Regions from separate parts of the Homo sapiens genome. Here region 1 is linked to region 2. The links come from fine-mapping of genetic effects on gene expression. A gene starts in region 2. The other region holds a variant in brackets. All regions are shown on one strand. Distances are between the middles of the regions.

Region 1 (5,372 bases), 110 kb after region 2:
CATGACTGGATTCCTGTAATTTATTCAACCAGTCTCCATGGGTATTTAGGTTGTTTCTAATACTTTGCTATTGCAAATAATGTTGCAGTAAATGACTCCGGCATAGTATTCTATATCTGTGGAGAAGATCTTCCATGTAAATTCCTAGAAGTCTTGCTGGGTCAAGCAGCAAATACATACGTAATTTTCTTAGATATTGACAAATTCCCCTCCATGGGACTTTGGCCAGTTTGCTCTCCTGCTAGCACTGTATGAGGGATTTTCTTGAAGCTCACCACCAGAGTGTTGATCAAACATTTGCATGTCTGCCAATCACATGGAGGAGAAATGATCTCTCATTGGGGCTTACTTTGCATTTTGCTTATTATGAGTAAAGTCAAACATCTCTCCATATGATTAAGGACCATCTGTATATCTTTTTCTGTGAACTGTCTACTCATGTCTTTCCCAATTTTTCTGTCAGGTCTTGGTTTTTATTCTTTTCCCTATTTTAAAAAATGTTTTCTCTCTATTGGGAAAATTAGCCCTTTGTGATATTTCTTGTAAATGATTTCCCCCAGTTTGTCACTTGTCTTTTGACTCTGCTTGTGGTGTTTTTGCATGCAAAAAAAAAAAAAAAATTTAGGTCAGGTGCAGTGGTTCACACCTGCAATCCCAACACTTTGGGAGGTCAAGGAGGAAGGACTGCTTGAGCCCAGGAGCTCAAGACCAGCCTGGGTAAGATGGGAAGCCCCTGTTGCTACAAAATATTTTAAAAATTCACCTGAGCATTTTTAATCCTCATTTTAATGCATGGTGGCATGCACCTGATGTCCCTGCTACTCTTACTTGGGAGGCTGAGGTGGAAGGATCACTTGAACCCAGGAGATTGAGGCTGCAGTGAGCACTGTTTGCACTACTGCACTCCAGCCTGAGTGACAGAGCAAGACCCTGGCTCAAAAAACAAATTTTTTAATGTGGGTGAATTTAATAATCTTTCATGCATCTGAATTTTGAGGCATAGTTTTTTGTTTTTTTGTTTTTTTTTTAAGGGAGGGCTTTTCCCATATACAGAGCCTTGTTTTCTTCTAGGACGTGTATGATTTATATTTTCACATAGAGATCTCTGATCCGCTTGGAGTTTATTCTGATATATGATGTGAGGAATAAATACACTTTGATATCTTTCAAAATGACTATCCAGATGTTCCAATACCATTTATTAAAAATTCATGGCAGGGCACAATGGCTCACACCTGTAATCCCAGCACTTTGGGAGGCCAAGGCAGGAGGATCACTTGAGCCCAGGAGTTCAAGACAGCAAGACCCCATCTCTATTTTTTAAAATTTTTTTAATTAAAAAAATTCAAAAGAAAACTATTGTTTGATTTTTTTTTTAGGTGTGACAATAGTAGTGTAGCTTTAAAGAATCCTTTTCAGTTGAGCCCAGGAGTTTATATACACAATGAAACACTTGCAGATACAATCTATTATGGCTGAGATGTACTCCAAAACAATGGAGGAGAGAGGGAAGCTGGTAAAGGTGTGGATGAAACAAGATTATGCATGACTTGTTGAATGTTGAAGTGGGGTGCTAGGTGATGGAGGTTCAGGATATATTCTTAAATTTTTTCATAATAGAAAATTTGTTTAGCCATGAGATGGTGAGATTTGAGTAATACTTCATAAGACTGCTGTGAGGATTTGGTGAGATGGACATAGTGCCTGGCAGACAGCAGGTGCTCAATAAAGGTTAGATGCTTTCTGCCTTCTCTTTTCCCAAACAGGCCAGGGAACAGCACCCCACATGGCCCCACAGCCTCCCATACCATCCTCTGCCGGGTGGGCAGCATTTTAGACTGACATCCACAACCTACTGGGGAAACAGACAACTGATGGGGCAGAGGAGTAGCATTTGGGGAAAGGAACAAGCCCCAGAGGGCTGGTCTTCCACAGACCCCTATGTGACTTTCAGTCATTTAGCTTGGCCCAGCCTATGGAGCCCCAGAGTGAGGGAGGCGTCCCAGCTCTGGCTCTGTTACCCTGTGCCTAGGACAATGTTGGAATCAAAGCCCAAATAACTGAGTGTCAAGAATAAACAATGGCACTCAGGCAGCAACAATCTCACCATGGCAACCCTTGCATGGCTCTTTTGGGTTAACAGGAGCCAGCTCTGGCACAGGTGTCCTGATGTGAGCATTAGAGAAGTCACTCATTTTGACTTTAGCACTATCTGGTCCACGGATGGAGGACAAGTTTTCCGAGGAGACGTGTGTGATCAAGGGGGAAGCCAGGGTGCCTCCTAAGCTGCTTACCTCCTATCTTTGACTTAATGACATTCCCACCATGGGCTAATCCATTCCTCCTCCTGTGGCCACCCCTGGACGTTTTATACCCACAGATATGAAAGCACAGCTCTCCAAGCTCAACCTCATAGCCCAGAGGAAACTTTAAACATTTAATCATTCAAATACAAAACCAACAATTCAGTAGGCTGAACAAATAATTTTTTTTTTTTTTAGACGGAGTCTCACTCTGTAGTCCAAATTGGAGTGCAGTGGCACAATCTTGGCTCACTGCAACCTCCACTTCCTGGGCTCAAAAATTCTTGTGCTTCAACCTCCC[G/A]AACAGCTGGGACTACAGGCACGCGCCACCACCCCTGGCTAATTTTTTATATTTCAGTTGAGATGAGGTTTCACCATGTTGCCCAGGCTAGTCACAAACTCCTGAGCTCAGGTGATCTGCCTGCCTCGGCCTCCCAAAGTGCTGGAATTACAGGCGTGAGCCACCACACCTGGCCTAAATTAGATTTTTTAAATGATATAACAAGGATCTAAGAGAACCCACCACCCAAACTAAAAAACAAAGCTCTTGTCAATATCCTACATCTAACCACATGCCCCACTCACCCTTCCCACTTGCAGAAATCACCATCTTTTTTTTTTTTTTTTTTTTGAGACAGAGTCTCGCTCTATCGCCCAGCCTGGAGTGCAATGGCACAATCTCGGCTCACTGCAACCTACACCTCCCGGGTTCAAGTGATTCTCCTGCCTTAGCCTCTCGAGTAGCTGGGATTACAGCATGCACCAACACACCCGGCTAATTTTGTATTTTTAGTAGAGACGGGGTTTCTCCATGTTGGTGAGGCTGGCCTTGAACTCCAGACCTCAGGTGATCCGCCCGGCTCAGCCTCCCAAAGTGCTGGGATTACAGGCATGAGCCACCATGCCCAGCTGAAAGCACCATCTTGATTTAGTGTGTTTGTCATTCCCTGGCTTCCCAGTTAAAGAGTTGTAATGTGTCTGTATGTATTCTACATACTTCTGAAATTCTGAAATGAATATAGTTAATAAAAAGGGAATTGTGTCTGTCCAAATGCGTTTTTTTTTTTGTTTTTTTTTTTTTGAGACAGAGTCTCACTCTGTTGCCCAGGCTGGAGTGCAGTGGCGCAATCTCGGCTCACTGCAACCTCCGTCTCCCGGGTTCACACCATTCTCCTGCCTCAGCCTCCCGAGTAGCTGGGACTACAGGCATGCACCACCACGCCTGGCTAATTTTTTGTAATTTTAGTAGAGACGGGGTTTCACCATGTTAGCCAGGATGGTCTCGATCTCCTGAACTGGTGATCCACCCACCTCGGCCTCCCAAAGTGCTGGGATTACAGGCGTGAGCCACCGCACCCGGCCGTATTTTCTATGACATAAAAAAAGGGGGGAATCATGATTTTATCCATCCCTGGGGTCTGATTTTTTTTCACTTAACATTAAGTGAACAATTATTTCCCTTACTGCTTTTTTACTCACTATTATTTTGCTAAGACTTATTCTTCTTTTTCATGTTAAGTGACACATGGCCCAGAACTAGAAGAGTGATTTGAATTTCTGTGGTAGCCATTCATTTCATTCTGCTCTGAAAATTATCCTCAGCAAAGCAGGGGCTCAAGCTCATGGTAGACCAGAAGCTTAAGTGGGAGACACAGCTAGTTTATAGTGGCACCAGCCTGCACTCTGTTCTGTTTGCTCCCAATCCAGAGCTGTAGCAGGCTGCAAATGCAAACACTACACAGTCATTTCACTGAAAAGTTTTCCCTCTGCCCTCCACTCCAACCCCCCGATCATGGCAAAAGACAGGGAATTCCTATTTGAAGCCCTGGTTCATAATTAAATAGTTAAATTAAAAGATGTCCCAGAGAGTAGTGTGTCAGAAAGTAAAGGAACTCTTTAATCTGGGTTTGACAGATGTGACTTGCTTTAGCCAATGGGCCATTATCAAATGTGAGCAGAGGCTTAGAAAGTGCTTGTGACTGGAGGCTTGTCCTTCCTTGCTTGTGAGACTACCATGTGAAGGTGGCTGAGGATGAGAGACCCTCCTAGAGGATGAGAGACCACATGGAAAGGGGTCTGGCCATCCCAGACATTGCAGTTTTCCCAGCTAAGACACCAGACATGTGAGTGAGGCCATCCCGGACCACCCAGCCCCAGCTAAGCAAGCCCAGGCCAGAAGAACCACCCAACCAACCCACAAAATCAGGGGAATTAAATCACAGTTGTTTTAAGCCACGACACAGCACGATGGTTTGTTACACAGCAAAAGTGAACTGATACACTGGCCTCACCACTACACCCTCTGCTTGTCATGTCCCCTTGTCAGAGCCCCTATCTTAGTGACCTCCCTAGACCTTTATTCTTCTAGGGCCCTGTCTTGCTTTCCCAGGTCTTCCACCCTAGCCTCCCCACAGAACAAGAGGCCTCCCTGTGAACTCTAGTCTGAAGCTAAGATTATAACAACTCTTCCTGATTCAAAAATCACTTCTGGCCGGGGTGGCTCATGCCTGTAATTCCTGCACTTTGGGAGGAGGCCGAGGTGGGTGGATCACCTGAGGTCAGGAGTTCAAGGCCAGCCTGGCCAACATGGTGAAACCCCATCTCTACTAAAAATACACAAATTAGCCGGGGATGGTGGGCCTGTAATCCCAGCTACTCGGGAGGCTGAGGCAGGAGAATCGCTTGAACCTGGGAGGCAGAGGTTGCAGTGAGCCGAGATTGCACCATTACACTCCAGCCTGGGCAACAAAGCAAGACTCCGTCTCAAAAAAAAAAAAAACTTACACTTCCATAACCTCCACCTAGCCCCACCACGACTCTGAGGGATAGGTATCATTCTCCCCACTTCTCAAAAGAAATAACTGGGCTGGGCATGGTGGCTCACACCTGTAATCCTAGCACTTTAGGAAGCCAAGGTGGGAGGATCACTTGAGCTCAGGAGTTCAAGACCAGCCTGGGCAACACGGTGAGACCTCACCTTTCTTTTAAAATAAATACATAAAGAAATATTAATTTTTTAAAAATTCCTCCATAAGAAATAACTGAAGTTCAGAGAGGTTGACAGATATA
Region 2 (5,305 bases):
GGAGTTCGGGACCAGCCTGGCCAACATGGTGAAACCCCGTCTCTACTAAAAATACAAAAGTGAGCCGGGTGTGGTGGTACATGCCTGTAATCCCAGCTACTCTGGGATTACAGAGGCTGAGACAGGAGAATCACTTGAACCCGGGAGGTGGAGGTTGCAGTGTGCTGAGATTGTGCTATTGCACTCTAGCCTGGGTGACAGAGTGAGACTCCGTCTCGAAAAATAAAATAAAATAAAATAAAAATAATAATTGGTCTGAATGGTGAAAAGGCCCCTTTATTTCATCTCACAAAACATCCCAGTCCAAATAGCAGTTTATACTTTATAAAATGCCACCTCCTGTGTGATCTTGCTTGCCCACTGCGAGCAGCCCTGTGAGGAACAAGGATGGCAATATCCCTGCTTAACAGAGCTTGAACTCAGGCCCAACAGGATGAGCAGAGGGATGGGCACAGGCCCCGTGTGCTGCTGGTGGCAGATCTGGGAGAAGACCTCCTTTCTCCCGACATCCAGCCCTGCTCTATCTTCCACCTCACTCTGCCCCTCATGCCCACATCTGCTGCAAAACCCCCAAGGCCTGGCACATGTGGCTCACACAGGCTCTGGCTCTGCCTTGTGAGGACGTGGCTGCGGCCCTGATTTTGTTAAGGGAATGGAGCCCAAATCCTCTTGGTGCTTGGTGCTCACTGATCCTCCCTGTTGAGGAACCCCCACACCCCTGGCCAAGTCAAGGTCAGAGGTGCTTAGAGGGCAAGGGATGTATTTTCTACAGTGGCCATCAGCAATTGCCACTCTGGCTACACCAGACGTGTACAACCTTGGTTTCCACTTGGGAAGTGATGACAGCTGAATGGCCAACCTGCCCAAGCAAGCGGGATTCCTGAGGCTAACAAGGCCTGCTTGCTGCTTGGTGCAAGAGGAAGGGTGTCTCTAGAGCTTTCCAATTCCTGAAGCCTTTGGCTGACACTGTGGGACTCTGTTTATTCCTGCTTAGGACACCGCGCAAGACTGTGAAGCAGTGGCTGATAGAAAAAAACACTTTGAAGAGTCACTCCCATTCATCTCCCTTCTCTAATACTTTTTTTTTTTGAGATGGAGTTTCGCTCTTGTTGCCCAGTTGGAGTGCAACGGTACGATCTTGGCTCACTGTAACCTCCACCTCCCGTGTTCAAACGATTCTCCTGCCTCAGCCTCCGGAGTAGCTGGGATCACAGGCGCCAGGCACCATGCCCAGCTAATTTTTGTATTTTTAGTAGAGACAGGGTTTCACCATGTTGGTCAGGCTGGTCTCGAACTGCTGACCTCAGGTGACCCACCCGCCTCGGCCTCCCAAAGTGCTGGGATTACAGGCGTGAGCCATCGTGCCAGGCCTCTAATACTATTAATAATTCAACATTCAAAAAATTTACAATTATCATTATTACTATCTCTACTATGAATGAACATTGTACAGTGCCTGACATAAAGCAGGTGCTCAGACTGGTGAATGAATGATGGAATGGATGAGAACTGTCCCCATGAGGCTGGGGCCTGATGGACCCCTTCTAGTTCCATGATGACCCCCATTTCCGTGGCAGTCCTTGGCAGGCTAAACAGCAGGTCATAGCGGAGGTCAGGAAATACATACATGAACAAGACATTGACCCTGTCCTTGTAGTCCCTCACACACTCTGAGCCACCATTTCCTCCTCTGTAAAATGGGAGGAGGGTTAGTTTTGAGTTTTCAACATGCCATCCTTGGGCTGAGCCATGAAGCTTAGGATTTTGGTAACTGGGTCCTCAGAGTATCGTGAAAATCCAACTTGAGGCTTTCCAAGGCTGTACAGGCATGCTAATATATTCTTTCTTGAGGCTCCTATTTCACATCTCAGAATGTTAACACTGGTTCTTTCCTGCTGATTAGACATTCTTACTAGAAAAAAAATTTAAAATTTAAATTAAAAAAAATCTCTTACTGTCCGGGTGCGGTGGCTCACGCCTGTAATCCCAGCACTTTTGGAGGCCGAGGTGGGCGGATCATGAGGTCAGGAGTTTGAGACCAGCCTGGCCAAGAGACCAGCCTGGCCAATATGGTGAAACCCCGTCTCTACTAAAAATACAAAAAGTAGCCAGGCGTGGTGGCGGGCGCCTGTAATCCCAGCTACTCGGGAGGCTGAGGCAGGAGAATTGCTTGAACCCAGGAGGCAGAGGTTGCAGTGAGCCGAGATCTCGCCATTGCACTCCAGCCTGGGTGACAGAGCCTGGGGGTGAAAGGTCAAGAGCCTTTTCTAGGTGGTGGCTCAGGTCCTTAGGGGGGTTATCACTGGACCGTTCTAGAATCTCCTGTAAATCAAATCACATCTGGAAGGTGGGGGCCTGGAAATCCCGGCCCAGCTCCCCGGACTCGCTCATTTGGGGTGTTTAGGTTCCCTGATCCGGGACTGCCGGGCCGGGAAAATTCCATGCCCGAATTGTGACGTCGGCCCGTTGCCATGGCGGCGAAGGCAGACATTCCGCGGTGACCTCACTGCAGAACCAGGCAGCTGTCACATGACGCGCGGGCAGGAGACCGGCCGGGCGACCGAGGGTCACCTGTTAAGTGAACATGGTAGCCCCGACCCCGCCCAAGGCCAAGCCCCAAGCGGGTGGCGGCTGGGACCCGGGCAGGCGCCACCCGGGCTCCGTGCACCCCGCCACGGGGAAGGGCCGCGCCCGGCCAGGCAGGGTTCCAGTTCCTTGGCCCCACGCGCGGGGGTAGGCGTCGACTCCAGGCCCCTCCCAAGCCCCCGCTGTGGCTCCCGGAGGGGCCATCGCGCCCGGGCTCCCCCAACCCAAGACTCGCGACACCCCGACCCCAGCCTCGGGTGGGCGGGGCGTCCCGAGAGGGACGGCGGGGCCGGGCTCGCGAAAGGGACTCACGCGTTGCCCACGTAGATCCGCGGGGTGACCTCGTTGCAGGGCTGGCTCGGGAGGCTGTAGCAGCCGCTGCCGTCCGAGAGCAGGTCGTTGAGATCCTGCACCGAGAGCTCGAACGAGCCCGACATGGCGGCGGCGGGGCCCTGCACGCCCGGCAGGAGCAAGCGAGGCGGAGAGCGGCGGATCAGCTGGGCGGGGGCTCGCGCCGGGAGCCGCCCCGTCCCGCCCCTGGGGCGGGCCCGCCGGGCTCCGGGAGCTGCGGAGCGCGGGCGCCGTGACGCGGGGGCCCCGCGCGCCACTCCTGGGCGCGTCCCGGGGGGAAGACGCCACCGCCCTGGAGTCTCAGGGGTCCTCGCCCCATCCCGGTCCAGGCCGTTTGTGTATCTTTGTAAACTGGCAAGCGCGGTAACTTCCTTCCCTGAATTAAATGCAGGGCCCAATAAACATTTCGTGGCGGAGGTACACCTAGGGGTCGCTTCAGTCTTTCATGATTACAGGGACCGCCGGGTTCGGCTCGTGAGCGGCTCCCTGCAGTGGAGGCACCACCCGGGCGCTTGACAGAATCCCCGCCCCAGCCCAGCCCTGCTGGATCAGAGTGGACATTTTACGGACCCCAGGAGGTCCCTACGGTCAAAGTCTGAGAAGCCCTACTCTGGGGCGCATCTGCTTTCAACATTCATTGAGAGTCATCGTCGTGCTTAAAAGCAGTCAGGTTTGGAATTCTGAGGAATTACTTAACCTGAGCCTGTTTGCAGGGAAAAAAAAAAAAAGCGGGATAGTAATGGTACCTAATTCTAGGGTTGCTGGAAGGGTTAAATGTGACATTCAAAGAAGGCACCCAGCACTGCATGGCGAGCACTCAATAGGTGTTAGTCCTTCATCAACAAATGCGTTGAGCACCCAGTGGGTGCTATACCCTGTGCTGGGGTGGAGATAAATCAGACTCCTGCAGCCCTTCCTGGAGCAGATGCCAGCCCACCATAAGCCACTCAGCATTTCCTGAACTCCCACTAAGTACAAAAGATAGTCTCTGTACTGGAGGAAAGCTGCCCTCCCCTACTGCCATGAAAAACTGGCAGTTTCCTTCCTGCAAAAGGGCAAATTTGGCCTTGAATTCAGGAACCCCACATCCTGAGCCCAGCCCTGCCACCAACTTGGTTCTTGAGTAACGTTGCTGCTGCTGTGGTCTTCAGTTTCCTCATTTGCAAAAGGAATTGGATCCGATTATCATTAGGGTCAACTTTCTCCTCCTCCAAAACTTGTGGTCTTGCACCTTCAGGGGAGCTATTGCAGTGGAGACTACTTAGCTGATAGCCCAAGATGTGTAACCAAGGCTGGAATTTCTGTATCCCTCACCCCACCCCGTGCCTGCCCACCCCTCCCGGTGCACCACTTCTTTCCTTCTGGTGTTGGCTGGCAGCATCTGCATTCTAAGCAGCGGGGAAAGCTTTCGAGTTCCTTGACCTTCATCTTGACTTGAGCCGAGGTTAGCATTAAAAACACAAGCCCAGAGGCAGCCAGCCATGCTCTGCTGCTCCTACTCCCTTCCCGGGACCTGTCCCTGATGTCATAACTGGGTAACTATGACAGCTTGTCATGGGGACAGCTAGGCACCTCACAGAGGAGTCTGGGTACCTCATTTCTGAAGTGAGACTAGGAAGAGAAGATGAACAATTCCCTGGATTATCTGGCCTACCCTGTTATCGTCTCTAATCACAGGCAAAGCACAACCTTCAGAAAGAAACTGGACTTTGGCCACTACGTATCTCACAAGAATAGAATACAAATAGGTATGTGGGCAGTTTGGGCTGGACACTGCTATTAGGGATTTTGGAATGGTACCCCATAAAGAGATCAACAGGAAACCAGACCAGGTCACAGCTTTGGGATGATATGGCCTTATCTGCTGAGTTTGGGGAAGAGGGCATTAGCACCAATAACAAAATGTATCTTCCACCAGGGAGTTCACTGGATGGAAATACTCCTTTAAACTCCTTAAAGCCGAAGTACGTTAGAAAGGGGATAAGACTTCAGAAGCCAATAGACAGGCTAATAATATTGGAAAAAGATTGGAAGAGAAGCTCTTTCATTGGATTAGAAGGACATTTATCTCTGTAAATTTTATTTTCACTATTCTTTTGTTTCTGCTCAAAACTCTCCAGAGATGTTCATTTGATAAATCAAACCAAACTTCTTGAGTCGCATTAAGGTCCTAATTCGAAATTGTTCATTAGTCAAGGACATTGTCTAGTGCTGGTTTTCTGAGGCCGCTACTGGAATTCCTGTGATGTAACATTGTTCCCTTTTATCCCCCTTCTCTAGCGAAGCCTACTGTTGATACCAAACCTCCAGTGGCGCACACAAATCACATTTTAAAATTGAGCAAACTACAGGTATTTGTTCTTGCTGC

Direction of the effects. Positions count from the first base shown, and alleles are read on the strand shown. Sizes are in standard deviations (SD) of each study's normalised expression.
With allele G in place of A in region 1, the expression in fibroblasts of the gene that starts at base 3,076 in region 2 is lower (small effect, 0.32 SD a copy in GTEx).

The links. PIP is the estimated chance that this variant, and not a neighbour inherited with it, causes the effect. A credible set is the group of variants that fine-mapping cannot tell apart.
Region 1: its variant is the best candidate, but not a certain one, in a credible set for the expression of DUSP3 in fibroblasts (GTEx, PIP 0.54).

Annotation. Positions count from the first base shown.
Region 1 is chr17:43,886,447-43,891,818 of GRCh38, forward strand. All of the region lies in intron 3 of MPP2 (MAGUK p55 scaffold protein 2), which reads right to left. Among named protein-coding and RNA genes, the nearest start is that of MPP2, 18 kb to the right of the region's middle. The variant G/A (reference allele first, on the strand shown) is at 2,605.
Region 2 is chr17:43,775,902-43,781,206 of GRCh38, forward strand. It overlaps DUSP3 (dual specificity phosphatase 3), which reads right to left and starts at 3,076. Exons shown (of 3, transcript NM_004090.4): 1 at 2,899-3,076. The coding sequence starts at 3,023. CFAP97D1 (CFAP97 domain containing 1) reads left to right here and starts at 4,534. Exons shown (of 6, transcript NM_001136483.3): 1 at 4,534-4,685; 2 at 5,218-5,288. The coding sequence starts at 4,562. RefSeq lists an enhancer at 2,340-2,634 and a silencer at 2,567-3,256.